Linked DNA regions of Homo sapiens. The protein of the gene in region 2 interacts with the protein of the main gene of each other region in a biochemical or structural test. Each region holds a gene or a part of one and is shown on either strand. Other genes may lie near its edges.

Region 1 (8,368 bases), on a different chromosome or scaffold from region 2:
GAACACACTTCTTACTTTGGTATACTAAGTCAGCCAAATGCTTTATTTGTTTTTAAGACTAATTATTTTAAGATGGAGCTTCATCCTTTCACCCAGGCTGGAGTGCAGTGGCTCGACCTCAGCTCACTGCAACCTCCATCTCCGGGGTTCAAGTGATTCTCCTGCCTCAGCCTCCTGAGTAGCTGGGATTACAGGGGCCCGCCACCATGCCCAGCTGTTTTTTTTTGTTGTATTTTTAGTAGAGATGGGGTTTCACCATGTTGGCCGGGCTGGTCTCAAACTCCTGACCTCAAGTGATCCACATGCCTAAGCCTCCCAAAGTACTGGGATTACATGAGCCACTGTGCCTGGCCAGTCAGCCAAATGCTTTTATGCCACTAATTTATAAATATTTGTGAGAGACATATTTTTCCAGCAGTCACCCAGCAACTACGATTAATGTATATGATCCATCTGGTCATTTTGGTATCACATTATTTTGTTTTCCTTCCCTTCCAAACAAGGTTTTCTTAAATTATTCTGGTAATTACCCTGTTGTCTCCTTTTGGGCTATGTCAGTTTCTATATGCAGACTGAGCAGAATTTCATTTTAGTTCTAAATTTATGACTTTCCATTTGGTGAGGTTAATTATGGAGACATTGATTAGATTGTCTGGTGGTGACTGGGGCTCAGCAATTAAGACACATGCTGCTTATGGAGATGTAAGCTCACTGGCAGAAACCAAAGCAAGTGGGGAGAATTTATTCTGGTCTGGAGAGACAGGGGAAAGGCCGCTCCACCCTGCCATTCTAGGTGTTGCCCATGGCTGTGATGGGTCCCAGGGAGAGGCAGAGTTCCTCTACTGCCCACCTGTCCAGGCACTGGTAGGAGCATTGAGAGCCTTTGCCCCAGTTCCAGGAGAGATGTGAGGGTGTATGCCTGCAGACAAGTTGATAATTTCTCCTACAGCTGTGGTGGCACTAATGAGTCTCCTGCTTGGATAAGATTGCCCAAATTTATTCTAGTAAGTTTTCACACAGTGGTCTAATTAACTGCTTAGTTCACCTTTGGTCTGAGCAATCAGCTTCTACCATGAGAAACAGGGCCTTACGTGTGTGGGTACAAGCTAGTTTGGAAGGAGGCTGGAGTATTGACTTGTGTCTGATTATTTAACCTTCCCTCAAACTGGAAAACTTATTTAATGGCAGGCGGCACCGATGCATCTTTTACTTGCTGCAAGATATGCTGGGTTTGCGCCCTCATGGTTTGGTTTTTCATGTGAAATTTAGTTTTATTTTTTCTAGCATAGTGACCTAAATACTTGCCACACTTACCTCTTGTGATTAGTTTCTTTTAGGTTAAGATCCAACAGTCATAATCTTGTATCAAATCCCTTGTTGGGGGAGGAGGACAGGACATACTAACTTGGCAATGGGATTTGGCTTACCAGAGATGAGAAAGCCAGTCACTTGGACTTGTTTGAAAGAGTGAGACAGGTGGGATAAGTTTTGAATGGGAAAAAGGAAGGAGCATTTGAGATTCTGTATTCATTCAGAGTGAAGGTGAGTGTGCCTTTTCTCTATTTTAAAAATTGACCAATTCTACCCTTTTCTAAAACCTGGTGGAGGTCCAAGGCAAACTGGGCCTTTTGGTCACTCTAGAGCTATTACTTTGCTAGGCAGATTACAGACATTGAATGAAACTTGTGACATAAGCCTATTTGCTGGAAACTGTCACTCCCATTCTCCCCTCTTTTATTTTGAGACAGGGTCTTACTCTGTTGCTCAGGATGGAGTGCAGTGGTGCAATCATGGCACACTGCAGCCTCGACTTCTCAGGCTCTAGTGATCCTCCTACCTCAGCCTCCCAAGTAGCTGGGACCACAGGCATGCACCACCATGCCTGGCTAATATTTTTACTATTTGTAGAGGTGGGGTCTCCTCGTGTTGCCCAGGCTGGTCTTGAACTCCTGGCCTCAAGTGATCCTTCCACCTTGGCCTCCCAAAGAGCTGGGATTACAGATGTAAGCCACTGCACCTGCCCCACCCCCCGTTTTTTTTTTTTTTGAGACGGAGTCTCGCTCTGTCGCCCAGGCTGGAGTGCAGTGGCGCGAGCTCAGCTCACTTCAAGCTCCGCCTCCTGGGTTCACGCTATTCTTCTGCCTCAGCCTTCAGAGTAGCTGGGACTACAGGCGCCCGCCATCAGGCTGGCTAATTTTTTGTATTTTTAGTAGAGATGGGTTTCACCGTGTTAGCCAGGATGGTCTTGATCTCCTGACCTCATGATCCGCCCGTCTTGGCCTCCCAAAGTGCTGGGATTACAGGCATGAGCCACCGAGCCCGGCCCATTTTTTTTTTTTTTTAACAAATGAGAAAACAGAGGCTCAGATGAGTAAAGAAATTTGTCCAAGACCATCCAGCCTCAAGTCTTGGAGTTGGAATTGTTCAAAGACTCCTGGCCTGTTTGATTCTTAATCCCCCACCCCTCCAAATGAGGGCCTGTATTTAACATCTCTCTCCTGCTTATTAGTTTACTTCCTCATTTTTCATAATTTTTAATTTTTGTGGGTATGTATTAGTCTGTTTTTATGCTGCTGATAAAGAGATACCTGAGACTGGGAAGAAAAAGAGGTTTAATAGACTTATGGTTCCACATGGCTGGGGAGGCCTTCCCACAATCATGGTGGAAGGCAAGGAGGAGCAAGTCATATCTTACATGGATGGCAGCAGGCAAATAGAGAGCTTGTGCAGGCAAACTCCCATTTTTGAAACTGTCAGATCTCGTGAGACTGATTCGCTATCATGAGAACAGCACAGGAAAGACCCGCCCCCATAATTCAATTACCTCCTACTGGGTTCCTCCCACAACATGTGGGAATTGTGGGAGTTACAATTCAAGATGAGATTTGGGTGGGGACACAGCCAAACCATATCATTCTGCCCTGGCCCCTCCCAAATCTCATGTCCTCACATTTCAAAACCAATCATGTCTTCTCAATAGTTCCCCAAAGTCTTAACTCATTTCAGCATTAACTTAAGAGTCCACAGTCCAAAGTCTCATCCAAGACAAGTAAAGTCCCTTCCTCCTGTGAGCCTGTAGAATCAAAAGCAAGTTAGTTACTTCCTAGATACAGTCGGGGTACAGGTGTTGGGTAAATACAGCCATTTCAACTGGGAGGAATTGGCCAAAACAAAGGGGCCACAGGCCCCATGAAAGTCTGAAATCTAGCGGGGCAGTCAAATCTTAAAGCTCCAAAATGATCTCTTTTGACTCCAGGTCTCACATCCAGGTCACGCTAATGCAAGAGGTGGGTTCCCATGGTCTTGGGCAGCTCCGCTCCTGTGGTTTTGCAGGGTACAGCCTCTCTCCTGGCTTCTTTCACAGGCTGGCATTGAAAGTCTGTGGCTTTTCTAGGTGCATGGTACAAGTTGTCATTGGTCTACCATTCTGAAGGCTGGAGGACAGTGGCCTTCTTCTCACAGCTCCATTAGGCAGTGCCCCAGTAGGGACTCTGTTTGGGGGATCCGACCCCACATTTCCCTTCTGCACTGCCCTAGCAGAGAGTCTCCATGAGAACCCCTCCCCTGCAGCAAACTTTTGCCTGGACATCCAGGCGTTTGCATACATCCTCTGAAATCTGGCAGAGGTTCCTAAACCCCAATTCTTGACTTCTGTGCAATGGCAGGCTCACTACCACTTGGAATTGACCAAGGCTTGCTTCCTCTGAAGCCACAACTCGAGCTCTACGTTTGCCCCTTTCAGCCATGGCTGGAGCGGCTGGGAGGCAGGGTACCAAGTCCCTAGGCTGCACACAGCATGGGGATCCTGGGCCCAGTCCACAAAACCACTTTTTCCTTGTAGGTCTCTACACCTGTGATAGGATGGGGTGCCATGAAGACCTCTGACATGCCCTGGAGACATTTTCCCCATTGTCTTGGGGATTAACATTTGGGTCCTCATTACTTAGGCAAATTTCTGCAGCCGGCTTTAATTTATCCTTGGAAAATGGGATTTTCTTTTCTATTGCATTGTCAGGCTGCAAATTTTCCAAACTTTTGTGCTCTGTTTCCCTTATAAAACTGAATGTCTTTAACAGCACCCAAGTCACCTCTTGAATGCTTTACTGCTTAGAAATTTCTTCCACCAGATATCCTAAATCATCTCTCTCAAGTTCAAAGTTCCATAAATCTCTAGGGCAGGGGCAAAATGCCACCAGTCTCTGCTAAAATGTAGCAAGAGTCACCTTTGTCCCAGTTCCCAACAAGTTCCTCATTTCCATCTGAGACCACCTCAGTCTGGACTTTATTGTCCATATCACTATCAGCATTTTGGGCAAAGCCATTCAACAAGTCTCTAGGAAGTTACAAACTTTCCCACATTTTTCTGTCTTCTTCTGAGCCCTCCAAACTGTACCAGTCTCTGCCTGTTACCAAGTTCCAAAGTCACTTCCACATTTTTGGGTATCTTTCCAGCAGTGCCCCACTCTACTGGTACCAGTTTACTGTATTAGTCCATTTTCATGCTGCTGATAAAGACATACCTGAGACCAGGAAAAAAAGGAGTTTAATGGACTATGGTTCCACATGGCTGGGGAGGCCTTCCCACAATTATGGTGGAAGGCAAGGAGGAGCAAGTCACATCTTACATGGATGGCATCAGGCAAAGAGAGAGCTTGTGCAGGCAAACTCCCATTTTTAAAACTGTCAGATCTCATGAGATTGATTCACTATCATGAGAACAGCATGGGAAAGACCCACTCCCATGATTCAATTACTGCCCACCGGGTTCCCCTCACAACATGTGGGAATTGTGGGAGTTACAATTCAAGATGAGATTTGGGTAGGGACACAGCCAAACCATATCAGGGTACATACTAGGTGCATATATTTTTGGGGTACATGAGATGTTTTGATACAGGCATGCAATGCATAATCATTACATCATGGAGAATGGGGTATTCATCCCCTCAAGCATTTATCCTTGTGTGATTACTTTTGCACCAACCTAATACAAGCAATCCAATTATACCCTTTTAGTTATTTAAAAATGTACAATTGAATTATCATTGACTATAGTCACCCTGTTTTTCTATCAAATAATAGGTCATATTCATTCTTTCTAAGTATTCTTTTTGTACCAATTAACCGTCCCTATCTCCCCCTCACCCCTGCCCCATACTTCTTCATTTTAATTCCCAGTCTTTTTCCTTTCTTTTTTCCCTCTGCCCAGCCTCTGCATTGCCCAGAGGCATTTTCTAATGCTCATGAAAGCTAGTCTGTGCTCAAAGTATCCTTGATCCTTGTTCTAAGTCAATGCTGTCTAATAGCCCTTTCTGCAACAATGGAAGTGTGTCTATCTGTGTTTCCCAATATAGTAGCCACAAGCCACAAGTGGCTTTTGAGCACTTGAAATGTGCCTAATGCAGCTGAGAAGCTAAATTTTAAATTTAATTTTACTTAATAAACTTAAGTAGCCACTTGTGACAATATGGTGCTACCATATTGGACGGCCTAGTAAATCTAACTCATTGGTTCTTAAGTTGAAAATGTGAGCCCTTGTCATTGAGGTCAAGTTAGCTTTGTCAGTGTTGGGCTAAGCTGTAATCTCATATAGGTTTATGGTTTGCTTTTCTTGACCTTGCATGGCTGTTGTTTCATTAGTATCCCTTCTTTGTTCTAATCACAATTTTGGTGGTTTGGGGATTTTGGTTTCTTACAGGTTCAGCGAAATGAGGACAAATCTACTACCTTGAAATTGGCTGATTTTGGACTTGCAAAGCATGTGGTGAGACCTATATTTACTGTGTGTGGGACCCCAACTTACGTAGCTCCCGAAATTCTTTCTGAGAAAGGTAAGTGTTACACATCGATCTGTGGGACTCTAGTTCCCTTACTAACAAATGTTTCATTTGTCATATTTACTAGTTTTCAATATGGAATAAATCTCAGAGAACTGACACTTAGGCTTGGATTTGGACTTCAATGAAAATATTTGAAGTAGGCTTGACCAAAGCATGAGAGCTTTCTCCTCATTAGGGCTGCCCTTGTTACAGTCAATGGATCAGTGTGTGTGCATGTGTGTGTGTGTGTGTGTGTGTTTATTGTGTTTAGGCAGGACAGTGAGATGAAAGATGATGGAGAATTGGGTGGGGAACTCAAGCAAGCAAGGCTACTTGACCCAAGGCTATCTCTAATAGGAGAGAATTGAAGCAGTCCTTATGGTACTTGGTTTAAAAATTTCTTCACCAACCTTGCATTTAAAGGAAAAGGATCCCATTTTCCTCCATGAACTCTATGAATATTTATTACCTACTTGTATATTATGCAAGGATCCAATGAGCTGTTTTAGTGACAAACTTTCTAAAACATTTAAAAAGGAAATAATAGTTATGATATGGCTCTAAATATATGAATGACTATTTGACTACTGTGGCACTCCAGGAGAAACCAATTTACCCACCATTGGTAAGATGGGAAGACTCTCATTGGGTTGCAGGGTTGGTGACAGGGAGAAGGGATGGACGGATAGTTTCCCAGCAGCAGAAGCATCAGGATAATTAAGATGAGGAGATGGCCAGGGATGGTGGCTCATGCCTGTAATCCCAGCTCTTTGGGAGGCTGAGGCAGGTGGATCACCTGAGGTCAGGCATTTGAAACCATCCTGGCCAACATGGTGAAACCCTGTCTGTACTAAAACTACAAAAAAATTAGCTGGGCGTGGTGGCACATGCCTGTAATCTGAGCTACTCGGGAGGCTGAGGCAGGAGAATTGCTTGAACCGGGGAGGTGGAGTTTGCAGTGAGCCAAGATCGTGCCATTGCACTCCAGCCTGGGCAACAAGAGTGAAACTTCATCTCAAAAAAAAAAAAAAAAAGATGAGGAGATGACAACATGCATGAGGTCAGGTGTTAGAGACATGGAGAAGACTAGCCTCAATGGACCAGAGAGAAACACAATTGGTTGGTATATTAGTCAGGTTTTTCTGTTGCTATAGAAATAACGAAGGCTGGGTAATTTATAAAGAAAAGAGGTTTAGTTGGTTCAGGGTTCTGCAGGCTGTACAAGCATGGTGCCAGCCATCTGCTCTGCTTCTGATAAGGGCTTAAGAAGCTTACACTCATGGTGGAAGGTGACAGGGAACCGGCATGTTACATGGTGGGACTGGGAGCAAGAGAGAGAGAGGGAGGTCCCAGACTTCTAAACAACCAGATCCTAAGTGAACTACCTGAGTGAGAACTCACTTGTCACCAAGGGGATGGTACTAAACCATTCATGAAGGATCCACCCCCATGATCTAATCACTTCCCGCCAGGCCCCACCTCCAACATTGGGAATCACATTTCAACATGAGATTTGGAGGGGACAAATATCCAAACCGTATCAGTTGGGTAGGTTGAGCTTAAATTCTCCACAAATGGGAAGACTGGTTAGAGATGTTTAGACTTGGTGTGGCATCGATGAACTGGATAAGAGAAGAAAAGAAAGCAAATAGGCAACACAAACTCTTGGGAAAACCACATATTGGTGGTAGCACCAACTAAAACAGGGTGTTGGAAAGGATAGCTCTTTTGGGAGATAGGGGGATGGGCTGAGTTTAATTTTGAATACACTGACTTTGTAGCGATATCAGGATGGATAATGGAGTTGTCCACTTGGCAAGGAGGTGAAGCTGTGAGCTGAACATGTGGCTTTGAGACTCCTCAACACAGAGATGGTTGATAATGGGCTCCTTGGTGATGCCAGGAATGAGAGCCAAGGACAGATTCTTGAGGAGGCCAAGAGCTCAGGGATGAGAGAAGGAAGGAGGGATCAGCAGAGAAAAGGCTGAGCAGCCCAGAGAGGATCTGAAAAGTGCATTGTCACAGAGGCCAAGGGACATTTCTAGGATTGATGAGGTCCAGGAAAATCAATCCCTCTCAACAGTGAGATGGTTGAGAACTGAGAAAAGACCAAAAGAGGTCATTAGTGACTTATTCTTTTAATATTTTCCTGCAGATTTGTATTTTGACAAACTTACTCTGGGGCTTAATTATGAATATCTAACTTCTAAATTACAGTGGTCAAGTGTTTTCTTTTTCTAACTGTAAAAAGTTAGTTAGAAAGTGTTTGAAAATGTCTATATTGCTGTGATAAGTTTTGGGAGGACAATGTGTAATATGTATCAAAAACCTTTACTGTATATTGCTTTGTCTATTTCATTGCTGGAAGGTTATTTTAGGAATATAATCAGACATGTGCACAAATATTTAATAAATGCTCATCAGAAAATTCCTTACAGCTGTAAAAAAATTAGTAAAAACTTAAATTACAACATAGGGATTTATTATGTAAAGGGGATACTAATAGTTATTAGAAATCATTTTTGTAAAAAATATTTTTGGTATTTTTC
Region 2 (8,368 bases):
AGGTGGGTGGCGGGACATGACACAGACAAAAGACTAGACAACGAGAAACCACAATGTTGTCCCCGACAAAGCTGCTGCTGTCCACCTGTGAAGTAACGAATGGCTCCTCAATCCCGTTAGAACGGCTACCATCGAAAACAAAATCACAAGTGTTGCCAAGGCTGTGGAGACGCTTTTTCTTCCCCGGCTCGGCTCTCCAAGGTTGGGTTCCCCACTGCGTGCTGGGGAGCCTGCAGCATGGCAGAGGTGGCCTCACACGGCCCCTGAGAACCAGAGCCTTGTGCACTGCTGGTGGGAACGCACGATGCCACAGCCACTGCGGAAACGCTGTGGCGGCTCCTCAAAACATTAAACACAGAACCACCTAATGATCCGGGGTATATGCCCTGGGTATATGCCCAAAGGAACTGGAAGCAGGGTCTCACAGAGATATCTGAACACCCATGTTCACAGCAGCCTGATTCACAACAGCCAGAAGTGGAAGCAACCCACGTGTCCATGGATGAATGGATAAACACAGTGTGGTCTATCCATAACAGTGGAATATTATTTGGCCTTCAAAAGGAAGGAAATTCTGATTCACACTACGACATGGAAGAACCTTAAGTGAAATGAGCCAGTCACAAATGCTGTATGATTCCACTAATACAGGTTCCTAGAGTAGTCAGAGACAGAAAGTAGAATCGTGGGTCCCAGGGGCTGGGGGAGGTGGTAAATCAGCAGGGGGTTAGTGTTTAACTGGGACAGAGTTTCAGTTTTGCAAAATGAAAAAACTTCTAGGGATGGATAGTGGCGATGGTTGTACAGCAGCGTGAGTGTGCTTAGTGGCATAGAACTGTACACTTAAAAATAGGTAAGATGGTACATTTTATGTGGTGTATACTTTACCGCAATTAAAATTAAAAAAGCAATGACTGGGACAGAGCTATAAGAAGTCACCATGCAGCTGTGACTGGCAGGGTCACATATGGAATTCCCCATCCTCTCCCCTGCGTGAACACGCAGCAACACGTGCCCAGGGAAAGCAGGCAGGATCACAAACGCAGTGCAGGGTTTTCACACAATGCGCATGGATGGAGAAGATGAAAATAGGGATACGGAGGCCCTAAGTATTAAATTTAATATGATGACCGGGATGGATACATAAAAACGCCACACTCCTCCCACGGGCTTACGGGCCATTTACAACACGAAAAATTTGTAAGACCAAGAAAGAACCCGCAATGCACACTAAGTCATGGTTGTGGTTCCCGCTCTGCCCCCGACCACAGTGCAATAAAACTAGCAATGAGTATCGGGAGAGAAACCAAAAAGCCGGAGCCCCTGAGATTTGTAAAAACTTGCTTCCAAACAATTCACGTGCTAAAGAGGAAACAGAAACCACAAATACAGAGAATCCAGAAAATATCAACCATGAGCACAAGGCAGAGGCAAACTCAGGGGATCCAGCCAAGCTGCCAAGCAGAGAACCGATGACGTTTCATTCCCACGCCAGCAAAGAACAAAAAGAAATGCGTTAGGCATTCAAGAAAAAGTGTAGAGTAAGTAAACTCAGGAACTGTTTTTTTTTTTTTGTTTTTTTTTTTTGGTGGGGGGAGGGAATCAGTGGGGAAGAGACCAATCACAGATTAACCACTGTCCATTCTGATCAAGAAATAACATGAAAATACAAATTCACAAAATTGCACTAAAAAGGACAGATGTTCACAGATGTAGAGGGAATTAGAAAAATAATTGTTCACATAATGATATGTGGATAAAATGAACAACTTCAGAGGAAAATGTAAAACAACATCACTGCTACAAGACACAGAAAACCCCAGCCAGGCACAGTGGCTCATGCCTGTAATCCCAGCACTTTGAGAGGCTGAGGTGGGTGGATCACCGAAGGCCAGGAGTTCGAGAGCAGCCTGGCCAACATGGTGAAACCCTATCTCTACTAAAAATACAAAAATTAGCTGGACATGGTGGCAGGCACCAGTAATCCCAGCTACCTGAGAGACTGAGGCAGGAGAATCACTTGAACTTGGGAGGTGGAGGTTGCAGTGAGCTGACATCGCTCCACTGCACTCCAGCCTGGGCGACAGAGCAAGACTCCATCCAAAAAAAAAAAAAAAAGACAGAAAACCCAAGGGGACCAATTAACACCAGAAAGATACTGAAAAGGTTGCCAATTTTCTACACCATGAAAAGGAGCCTGGCCCCGGTGGTTTTGCAGGTGAAAATGAAGACCCTCTAGATCTTCAAGGAACTGCTTATTTCCATCATCCTGACTATCCTAGCACACAGGGAAAGAATAAGGGTCCACAACCTGTATCTTGGGAAGAAAACCCAATGCTGGTAATAAAACTCCCAAGGTAAAGTACAGAGCAAGCTCACTCAGGAAGAACGAAGCCACACTCAGAACAAACAGTGGCCAACAGACACCTGAGACTGCCGAAAGGCTGCACAGGAATGAGGAAACGCTCCATTCATCCCAGAAACACGGTAGGTTCGCAGCCTCTGACCACTTCTCCTGTGTCACAGCCTCGCCAGTGCCAGCGGCCTGCCAGCACTGAGACAATGTCCAGCTGGGCAGGTTGTTGTGTCACATCGAACGGTTCTTCCTTCACAGGACAAAAGCTTACTTTACACACGGGAAGAAGATGCATTCTCCATCCCTCTCCCACCCCCACCCCCACAAAAATACAATAAAAAAGCATCTGGCCCCAAAGGAGAAAGACAGAAGGTTTAAGGTGTTAACTCTTGACCACATGGCTCTGAACTGTGTGGATCACCTACATGAAGCTTTTCTTCTGCCGCTGCCGCCACTGAGACAGCAAGACCAACCCCTCCTCTTGCTCCTCCTTCTTGGCCTCCTCAACATGAAGACCTTAGGATGATCCACTTACACTTAATGAAAAGTATATATATTTTCTGTGGGTTTTTTTGAGATGGGATCTCACTCTATTGCCCACGCTGGATTGCAGTGGTGTGATCTTGGTTCATTGCAACCTCCACCCCCTGGACTCAAGCGATCCTCCCACCTTGGCCTCCCAAAATGCAAGGATTACAGGCGTGAGATACCATGCTGGGTCTAATTTTCTTAATAACACTTTCTTTTCTCTAGCTTACTTCATTATAAGAATACAGTATAGGCTGGGCACAGTGGCTCACGCCTGTAATCCCAGCACTTCGGGAAGCCAAGATGCATGGATCACTTGAGGTTGGGAGTTTGAGACCAGCCTGGCCAAGATAGTGAAACCCCGTCTCTACCAAAAATACAAAAATTTGCCGGGCATGGTAGCGGGCACCTATAATCTGAGCTACTGGGGAGGCTGAGGCAGGAGAAACACTTGAACCCGGGAGTTGGAGGTTGTGGTGAGCCAAGATCGCACCACTGTACTACAGCCTGGGCAAAAGAGGGAGACTCAGTCTCAAAAAAAGAAAAAAAAAAAAGAATACAGTATACATACATGTAACATACAAAATATGGGTTAACTCACAGATAATGTTATCAGTAAGGCCTCTGCTCAATAGTAGGCTGTCGTTAAGCTTTGGGGGAGTCAAGAGCTACACTCGAATTTCTGACCATGTGGGGGTTCGGCGCCCCACCCCTGCGTTGTTCAAGGGTCACTTGTATTGCCATCGCCAGCAGCAAAGGAAGGCAGCTGCTGTCACTCCCCTACTCAGCAGTGAGTCACTCTCCAACACAGTACGACTGGAGAACAAAACAGGGAAAATTGTTAAGAGGTGGTAGGACCACCCTAGGTTACGGGTGACCTTATGACTGGCCTGAAGAACCAAGCAGGAAGCAAAAAAACTAAAATAAAAAACAGGCACAGGGTGACAACAGTCACAAAAGAAACACACAGAAGAGGAGCTTCCTCTTAGCCCAGCGATGACCAGCTAGAAAATAAAATGGGGGAAAATATCCCACTCTCGGTAGTGGCCACAGAGCACCGGATTCCTAGACACTGAATGAGTCATCTGCAGGAGAAATGAGATCTCTGTGGAAGGGCCTGGATGCAGACGTGGGGGTGGAGGAACAGACTGCTGTTTCTCGAGCCGGTGGTCTTGATGTAATCCTCCCTGACCAGTTAATACATTCAGTGCAATTACCATGAAAATCCCCCAAATATTGAGCCATTGATAAAAATTGCTAGGAAATTAAGGTAAATTCCAGATGCATCAAAGGTTTGTGTGTTTAGAACCATAAGGCACTGGAGGAAACCTACACAGGCATGCTCTCTGGTTTCACCTCCTCGCTGCCTCCTAAGGGCAGCTTTCGCCGCTGCCTCTCCTGCAAAGGACCCTGCCATCTGCCTCCCTCCACCACCAATCATGTCAAGGTGCCCAGTGGTGCCTGGGGCCCGTTTCCTTCTCTGTCCTCCCTGGCCGTCCTCTCTGGCCTCTCACAAGGAGCCTGGGCCTGTTTCTACCCACTCTCACCGGTCACCCCTCCAAGCAAGGATTTGACATAGGCCAGGCCCTGCTGCCGCCAGAAACACCTCTCTTGGCCATACCTCTTTCTGAACCCTTGATTTGCATAGACTCCTGTCTACGTACCATCACCCCTCAGAATCCAAGGGGAACGCTGAACCCCATGTGGCTGCTGAGGACGGGGCTGCCAGGTGCAGCAAATGACAGGAGGCCCTGCGAAATCTGCATCTCAGAGAAACGGTGGTTTTTGAGGCATGTTCCCGATACTGTATGAGACAGGCTTATGCTTCTTGTTTATCTGAAATTCCAGTTTGCCTGGGGCTCCCATGTTTCCTGGCAGCCCTGGCTGTGGCCTGGGGTGTCATCTCCCCTCCCCTGCACTCTCCTCTCTACTCCCCTGCCCTCCCCTCCCCTCCTCTCTTCTCCCCTGCCCTCCCCTCCTCTCCTCTCCCCTGCTCTCCCCTCCCCTCCTCTCCTCTCTTCTCCCCTGCCCTGCCCTCCCTACTCCCCCAGGAGCTCTGCCAGGTGCTGTTCTTCATTCCTCAGCGCTGCCTCACTTCCTGCATCCAGGCCCAGGGACTGGAGTCCATCACTTTCGCCTCCAGGACTCCCTGGAACCCTCCCACTCCTATCCTTGCCTGGCCTCCTGCCCATGCTGGGGGCCACAGCTGAGGGCTCCTTTAAACCACACCTTCTGTCCTGTCACCCCCTTTAATGTCCTTCAAGGTTTTCCCACTGCCCTAGGAATGAGATCTGAATGCTTAGAGAATGGGTCTTTCCTCCAGCACCAGCTTCGGCTCAAAGCCCTCTTCCCCACCATGCTTCAGTCAAAAAGGCTTCCAGGAACTTCCAAAGCAGGGCCTTTGCACAACCGTCCTTGCCCTCTGCCCTCTGGACTGTGCTGCCGCTGCTCCTCAGGGCTGTGCTCCGTGGTCTCCTGTTTATTTCCTGCTGCATTTAAGTAGCACCACATGTCTACATGGTTGACATGCAGCAGGGCTGCCCCACCCTGGCACTATGGACATTTGGTGTGGGATCATCCTCTGGGGGAGCTGCCCTGGGTTGTGTAGGACACCCTACTGTAGCAGGCTGCTCTGCACCCCTGTCCTTTGCCCCCTCCGAGTCCTGACCCTGGGTGTCCCACGTGTGTGAGAGTCCTGACCCTGTGTGTCCCGTGTGTGAGGTGGCAGATGGGTGTTTCCAGGAGAAACGGTGCAGCGCTTTCCCGGCATTCCCTCATCCATCCACCTCCCCCGCTTCCCTCTCACAACTGTCTCCTCCAGAGGCAAGAAAATCCCTGCAGAGAGAGCCACCCCGGGTGTCAGTCACCAAGTGTCCATTGAAGAGGCAATGCTTTCTAGGCTTCTTCCCCTCCCGGCCTGGGGCCAGGGTACCTGACAGCGGCAGGCCTTACGAAGCAAACACGCGCATGGTTGGGCAAATCACTGACTTTTCTCCTCCCAGGTGGTGTCAGACTCAAGACAGTCCTTCCTGAGACTCGTGTGGGGATACGTGGTCCGGGAGAACAGGGGGCAGGGCTTCCTGGGCAAGCTGTACCCCACCCCCTGGAGTGAGCTGGCCCAGGCCACGGGCCAGGTCACTCTGCCTCCCCTCCTGCCCCCGTGGTTTCCCAGAACTCTCAGCTAATTCAGGAGCTGCTTCCCCGGAGCCAAGGCCTGGGGGCCTGAACATGGCATGTGTGGGGGTGACACTAACGTACCCTGAGGGTCTGCTGGGGGCACAGAGGAAGACCCCCTGTCCCTGGGGTGGTGGGTGGGGTGGGGGTTCTGGGAGGCTGGGCAGTTGTCCCCGTGAGGGGTGGAGGTGGTGCTGACCCTGGCGGAGGGCACAGTGGACAGCCGGGGCCTGGGGTTTTGGGATTCTGGTTCTCGGTCCCAGAGAATCCACCATGTGACTGCACATGGGAGGGAGTGAAGCACTCTCGGAGCACGGGGAGGAGTCACCGAGAGAGCTGAGAACGTAGAGTCGGGGGGCCTGTGACTCAGGCCCATAGCCCTGCACTCCTGCCACATCTGGCTAGTGTGTCCCCCTGGACCCTGCTCCAACAAAGCCACCCAGAAGCCGTGATTTAAAAGATGGTTAAAGTGATGCCTTTCGGATGCCCCAGAAATTACTGAAATAAACCATCTTAGGAAAAAAATATTTTTCCTGAACAGAATAACATCATTCGGTGAAGTGAGTACGATTTTGTTTGGGCTGGGAGCCCTCCTATGGTGGCCGTGTTGACGCATCCTCCTCACTAAGGAGAAACAGGTCCTCCAGGAACATCACCCAGCTGAGAGTCCTCCTGTTCTGGAGCAGAGAGGACTGGGGACAAGGACATCCCTCCAGGGCTTCATATGTCTGCTGTGGGATGTGTCAGAGGTAGGCAGGGGGTATGGCAGGCTGGGAACTGAACAGTGCCCTGGCAGCACCGTCTCTGCCTCTTCATTTGCCACCAAGAAACTGGTGGGCTGGGGCAGTGGGCACATGGTCCAGCAAGTGCTGGAGCCACCAGGGCCACTGTAGCCCGGGCTCCCCTGTCCCCTTCCCAGCTCCCACTGTCTTCCTGGCTGCAGCACCTCTTCTTTCAGGAGGCCTCCCTGGGTCCCCAGTGGAGGAGGAGGCTCTTGGGCAGGATTCCCACAGTCCCCCAGGTACGCCATTCTCGGAGCCCCCTGAGCCTGCCGTCCCTGCAAGGGACAGACACCCATCTCAAACGTTATGGGTCACATGATGGAAATGTGTACCCCATGAGCTCGATCTAGGGGCTCAAAAGGCTTCAGGAGTGCTCTATGTCATGGACAGGTACTCCCCCATGGCTCACAGGGTAGACTGTGGCAGCCCCACTCAGATCCAGCCTGGAGGAAAGACGCAGCTTTTCCCCGTGGTTCCAGCAGAACACTGACTGTCCAGCCTGCGGCCAGTCTCCTCCCTGGGACCATCTGGATGGCCAGGCCTGGCTCAGAGACCACTGAGGGCCAGCCCACCATACCACAAAGACCGTCAGGAAAGAGGGGTTCTAGGCCTGAGTTGGGGGTGGGGGCACTGGCAGGGGCACTGGCAGGCAAGCCCGAGGGGCTTCACTCTCTGGGCTCAGCATTTCCGCTGGAATTCACACTACACATGGCACCTGCATCACACAGTCAGCCAGACGCCAGTTGTAACTGATTAGAAGCTATGAAATGGGCGCATTCTGGGGAAAAAAATCAGGACAGACTTTTCCAACTAGCCTTAACTAAAGATTCCACCTAAAACATTTCCCGGAGCTGAATCTACCATTTGCACTGTGGATATAAATGTTTCTCAACAGCCCTGGCCTCGGACTGGTAATAAGCACGCTGACAGGCATGCGCCTGTGGAAGGAAGACAAAAATCCAGAAATTTCTTCCTGCAGCTAGACACACAGAGAGGGTAAACAAACACACTGAGTTGATTAACAAATAAGAATCCTTCAGATTTGGACTTTGGCATGAGAACTGTGTCCAGATTTAAAACCGCATGGCAATCTGAAGCAGTCACATAGCATTTCCTGTGATGTCCCTGTCATTCCAATTCTACTTGTATTTATATAAAGTCATACATTTCAATTAATGTTGCAGCCATTAAAAAAACCCCTGGCTCCCACGTGACAGCCAAGGAAGGCATGCGTTTCCTAGGACAGGTGACTGAGTTCATGTGTGACAGCACCAGCCAGCATTCCCTGAGTGAAGATGGACTCGAAAAACCAGGGGCTTCTAACGCATCCTTCTTTCCTGGTTAACGAACAGCTTTTCGGTGTCTATACACAAACTTTTCAGAATGCATGTAGAGTCTCCAGTAAACAGAAGAGTACACAGGATGCTCAGAGGGAAAAGAACTATATATGGATCCTAAGTTTTTTTTTTTTTTGAGACGGAGTTTCACTCTTATCACCCAGGCTGGAGTGCAGTGGCATGATCTCAGC
Region 3 (5,002 bases), on a different chromosome or scaffold from region 2:
TGGTTCCAAGGGCTGTCTGTGCTCTTTTGGGAATCTAAGGGTAGGAGTCTTACAGATCTGGGTCAGTTAATGTGCACAAAACGTTGTGGCATATTTACTCCCTTTGATACCTAACCCTGGAACTTTTAGGCTTTCAAAGAAAGTCACCACTGTAGTCCTAGCTCATCCCTGGGGCATGATGGTTCTGTGAGGACCAGTCCAGTCATCCTCTTGCTCCTGCAGGCTTAGTCCTGCAGTCTAGGAAGCCATGCAAAGAAGGTGAGAGGGTCCCTTCTTTCCATTGTTCATGGCACCTGAGGGATTCTTCACTTTGAGAGCAGCTTCCATTCCCTTAGAACTCATGGGACCAGGACTTATGCAGAGAACAGTAGTGAGAAAATACTTGTGGTCATTTTCTTGATTCCAGGATCTTCCAAAGATTATGCAATCAGTCTTTAAAAAAACAGAATAATTAATTTTAATAAAAAATGTTTCTTGATTTTAAATGTTTTAAAAGATAGGACCCAAAATTCCACTTCATCTGGCCTGGCATCATCCTTGCAGGCTTTGGATATGTCTCCCGTGTGCGGACCTGGGAGGCAGTGAGAACTAATTATTTCTTTGTTGCTTAACAAAAGGCGGTGCTGTTTGGCACTTTCACAGACTGGCTTATCTCCAGCAACCACTGCAGAAGACAGTGTTATCACCATTTTATAGAGGAGAAAACTGAGACTTAGAGAGGTAAAGTAATTTGCCCAAAGTTACATATCTAGGAAGCCTCAGCACAAGAATTCAAATCCTGGCCATCTGATTCCAGAGCCTGGGCTCTTGGCCAGCACAGCCTGACTGTCACTGGTTGGGGGAAGGGGCGGTGATGCTTTTAGAAACAGGCTTCTTGAGACACCAGGCAGCTTTCCAGTTCCCTGCAAACATGGGGGAATGCCCTGATCAGTCCTAAAGGTGTGACATAGTCTACTTTCTAGGGCAGTTATTTCTTATTGTAAATTAACTAGTGGCTATTATATTTGCTTCTGCCCGCAGGGAGAGAAGATGCTGAGTAATTGTGCCAACACAGGTGCTTAAAGTCCGTGTGACAGTTACTTTTCTTATAGCATGTACTCAATTAATACTTGTTACATGAATGAAGAATGACTTGACTTGCCTCAGTTGGCATTCTGGGGTGTCTACCTGGGTGCAGCATTTCAGGGCTGGGTTTCCCTGAGCAGAGTTGTCTTTGTAGCAGATGGATGGACTCTGTCCTCAGACAGGCTTATAAAGAGTACTACCAGTTCTATTAGCCCCACTCAGCCCCTGCAGTTGTTACAAGGGTTCATGTGCTTTCTGTTGGAATTAGGAGAACAGAACAGTCATAGACTATTTAAAAATATATATTTACTAAAATGTATTTGTTTGTTTTTAATTCCCAAAGCTTACAACCATCTTTTCATCTAATCTGTGAGGTATTTAGTATACAGCAGTGATTTTCTCTCTTTCCTTTTTTATAAAGTGAAGAGGTTCAACTATCCAGAGAGTCCCATCTAACTCAAAAAATGTAATGGCTTTGGTTGGATTGCATCTTCAGTCAGTACCTGCCCATGGCTTAATCAGTATTTTAAGTGAATGAATCATGTTTCCCCACTAGATCATTACGAGTAAGCAGTAAGTAATAAATAGAGAATATTAAGTATTGAACATTATTAGATGCAGCTTTTTGTTCTGCATAGAAGAAAGATGAGGATAAAGGAGGGCATTGAGGCCACGAAGAGCTTCCCAGACACCCACGGCCATCAGATCATCTTCTTCCTGCAGGCAGTGCCTTCTGGTGGAAGGAGCTCAGTCTATCAGAGAATAAACCAGGAGCCTGAAAGCAGTCCTGTGTCTCTGCCTTTAATCAGCTGTCACTTATTCTCTCCCCAAGAAAGGGAAATAGGTCTCAGCAGTTTCTGCCATCCATCATGAATCAATGAAATCATTTCATTAAAAATTTTTTTGTATGAATGTGCAAAATTGCCAACTAGGAGTTCAATGGGAAAAATAAAAAAAACTTAGTTTGTCAACATGATCCATAGACGAGATGATCTTCATGTGTTCCAAAGGCAGAAAGGTGAGAAAAAGGATCTAGCTTGGTCTCTGTCCCTCAAAGACAGAAGAGGTCAGGAAGTCCAATGGGCGATGCTCCTGTAGATAAGGCACAAAGCAGGAGAGCTGAGGGTGTCCAGGTTCCATGCCCTGCATCACCAAGAACCCTTCTCCCTGGCTTGAAATCTTTGGAAATTCCTGGTTTGAGTCACAGAGAAGCATTGTCATGGGCTCAGTAACCCTGCCACCCCTGTTATCTCCATTCTCCCTTTGGTCACAGCAGCTGTCTTAAGACACAAGACCATGCCTGGGCCCTACGTAGGCTGGCTGAGAAGGAAGGTTGCTGCAATGGCTTCCGAACTCCAGGGAGCAAGTGCTGGCTTCAGCTCAAAGTTTCCAGGGGCTGGGAATAAGGTGGAGGAATAGCCATCAGAAGAAAGGGCAGTTGGAAGTATAGTGTCTGGAAGAGGGGGCTCCATGTCCCTCCAGCCTCAGTGCCTGCACGTTCCTCACCAGCTAAGCTGTGCTGAGAAGTGGGTAAGCTAGGTAGTAGCCCACAGCAGAGCCCAAGACCACACCAAGGAAAATCCAGGTGTTGTAGGACATTACGGCCAGCATGATGAAGTAGCCGATGACCACCTGGATGACATGGATTAGAGACTGGCCAAAGTGACACAAATACCACCTAGATAAAAAGGAGAAGCAAGTTAATCCTGGTAATGAGCTGGTAATGAGGAAGCTGGGAGTAGATATCAGGGAGTAGAAAGCTGTTGAGTTACGTGACCCGATTGATTTATAACTTGTATGCTTAACCCAGGAGTGATTTCTTTCTGCCCCTCCCACCCCCGCCCCCAGAAAAAACTCGAGATTTATTTTTAAAGAGACATATCTTCACTACATTTGGTTTCAAGCTTCCTGGCATCCTAGGCAAAGGGGAAAATGAGGGTATCTATAATCTGTCTTTCTGATAAGGAATAAGAGAAAATCATCAGTAAGGCATATTTCCCCCCTGAATCTACTTCGGGAGGCAGTATGACAATGGAAAGAAAAAGCATGGTCTTAGGTGACATTATCAGTTCCTAGACCTGCCACTAACTAAAAGTGGCCTAGACAAATGTCTTAACCTCTCTGAACGTAAGATTCCTTATCAGTAAAACAGGAATGAGAATACTTCCCTTGCAGTGCAGTTGTGAAGATCTGAGACACCCATGTAGGGTGGCTAGTGATGGAGCGGGCAGGCTTATTAAGCACAGGTGAGGCTGGGGCTGGACAGAGGGCAGAACAGGGACCCTAAATGGTTGCCTGATTCGAGTGGGAAGGGAGGAGAGGAGAGCTTGTCATCCTCCTCCCACCAAGTGGGATACATTGCTTCAGGACAGCTGCAGATCCCCTCCTGGATATGGGAGCCTAGTGACCCATGGAACTGGTGAGATTTGGGGGAGGGTGGGTGGCCACCTCATTTGCTAGATAGGGGCCTGCACCTGAAGATCACTGTTCCCTAAAGAAAGCCTTCTGAGCCTCTCAAGTGGCTGGCTGTTCACAGAGTGCTTTGGCCTGGGCATCAGGAGACATGAGCTCTAGTTCACTTGGCTATGTGTAGCCACTTTGGCAAGTCCTGGTCCTTCCCTGGGCCTCGCTGTCCTCTCTGTGAAGTGGGGCTAATGCTGTCTGGGCCAGCCTGTCTCTCAGGGTGAATGTGAGGCTTCTGCCCCTTTCCCATACCCACTGCCTGTACCTGTGGTGGGTTCTGCCAACAGGGAATGAATCTGAGCCTGCAGAGTCCCCGTCTGTCTCTGCGATGGTCTGCTGGCTGATGGAGGTTGGCAGGTTCACCAGTACCTGGTTGAGCAGCTTGGCTTTGCCAACCTTGATGCCTTCATACAGTACAGCCAGAAGCAGGAGCACCAACACCGAAAGGGCCATGCCTGTCAAAGGAGGCAGAGTTGTGGAGACCTGGCCAGGCCAGCACTGTTTCCCTTCCAGCACCTCCACCTGTTCATGGAATCCACTCCATCCACCTCTATCCTGCACCTTCTTCCCCACCCTTGCTGAGTTCCGAACTTCTTCACTGTCTTCACCAGACTTTTCTTAGCTGGAGTGTGGCTTTGAGATCAGGAAGAGAAGCCACCTGAAAAATCCAGGGGCTGAGGGTGAAGAAGCCACGTACCATTACCCCACCCACTCCCCCAGCAGGCTGCACAAATCTGTCGTGACTTCTTGTTAAGTGATGAGTACTGCAAGGTCCTATTTATATGTAAGTATGCAAAAAATGTCTGGAAGGAAAGATAAATAGCACAAGAGTAATAGTTATCTCAGCAAAGTAGGATACAGGTGGTTTTTATGTTCTTGCCTAACTTTCTAAGGTTTCTTTTATATATATTACTTTTATAATAGGGGAAAAACCCAATAAATTATTTTACCAAAACTATCAAGTGCTTATTAGAGCTGCTGTGTAAAATTAACTGTTAATTACTACTTTTGTTTCACTAAGAGGGATAATAAGTGGTCCAGCTAAAGTATTTTACTGGACTCTGCGACATAATAAGAGATATATATCCTGTTTCTGCCCTGGTTTCCTGGCACACGACTTCTAGAACCCTTGGAAACGCTGTCAAGTGGTGTCTTTTTATATGCTAATGAGATGACTGATGGCTGAGGCTCCTGGATGGGGGCTGGTTGCCAGGGGAGCCAAACTTGTGCTTGGAGGTTGGCACTTTCAGCCCCACTCCCTACCTCTGGAAGGAGACAGGGACTGAAGGTTGAATTGATCACCAGTGGCCAATGAGGTCATCAATCATTCCTCCATATGAAGACTCCATAGAAACCCAAAAGAATGCAGTTTAGATAGAAGGAATAAGTTGTTGTATTCGACAGTACAGTAGGGAAATTTATAGTTAACCATAATTTATTGTATATTTCAAAATAGAATTGTAATGTTCCCAAC

What was found.
Region 1: the proteins of RAMP1 (region 2) and DCLK3 form a complex in vitro, tested with the Homo sapiens proteins (one study listed by BioGRID).
Region 3: the proteins of RAMP1 (region 2) and SLC31A2 form a complex in vitro, tested with the Homo sapiens proteins (one study listed by BioGRID).

What each region holds. Positions count from the first base shown.
Region 1 is NC_000003.12:36,718,990-36,727,357, reverse strand, and holds part of DCLK3 (serine/threonine-protein kinase DCLK3), read left to right. Parts: intron 1-5,698; coding exon 5,699-5,831; intron 5,832-8,368.
Region 2 is NC_000002.12:237,861,797-237,870,164, reverse strand, and holds part of RAMP1 (receptor activity-modifying protein 1 isoform 1 precursor), read right to left. Parts: intron 262-8,368; exon of another isoform or gene 183-261; intron 1-182. UniProt on the Homo sapiens protein: Accessory protein that interacts with and modulates the function of G-protein coupled receptors including calcitonin gene-related peptide type 1 receptor (CALCRL) and calcitonin receptor (CALCR). Required for the transport of CALCRL to the plasma membrane.
Region 3 is NC_000009.12:113,160,490-113,165,491, reverse strand, and holds the end of SLC31A2 (protein SLC31A2), read right to left. Parts: intron 4,487-5,002; exon of another isoform or gene 3,984-4,486; coding exon 3,794-3,983; exon of another isoform or gene 2,744-3,793; coding exon 2,575-2,743; 3' UTR 1,352-2,574; downstream 1-1,351. UniProt on the Homo sapiens protein: Does not function as a copper(1+) importer in vivo. However, in vitro functions as a low-affinity copper(1+) importer.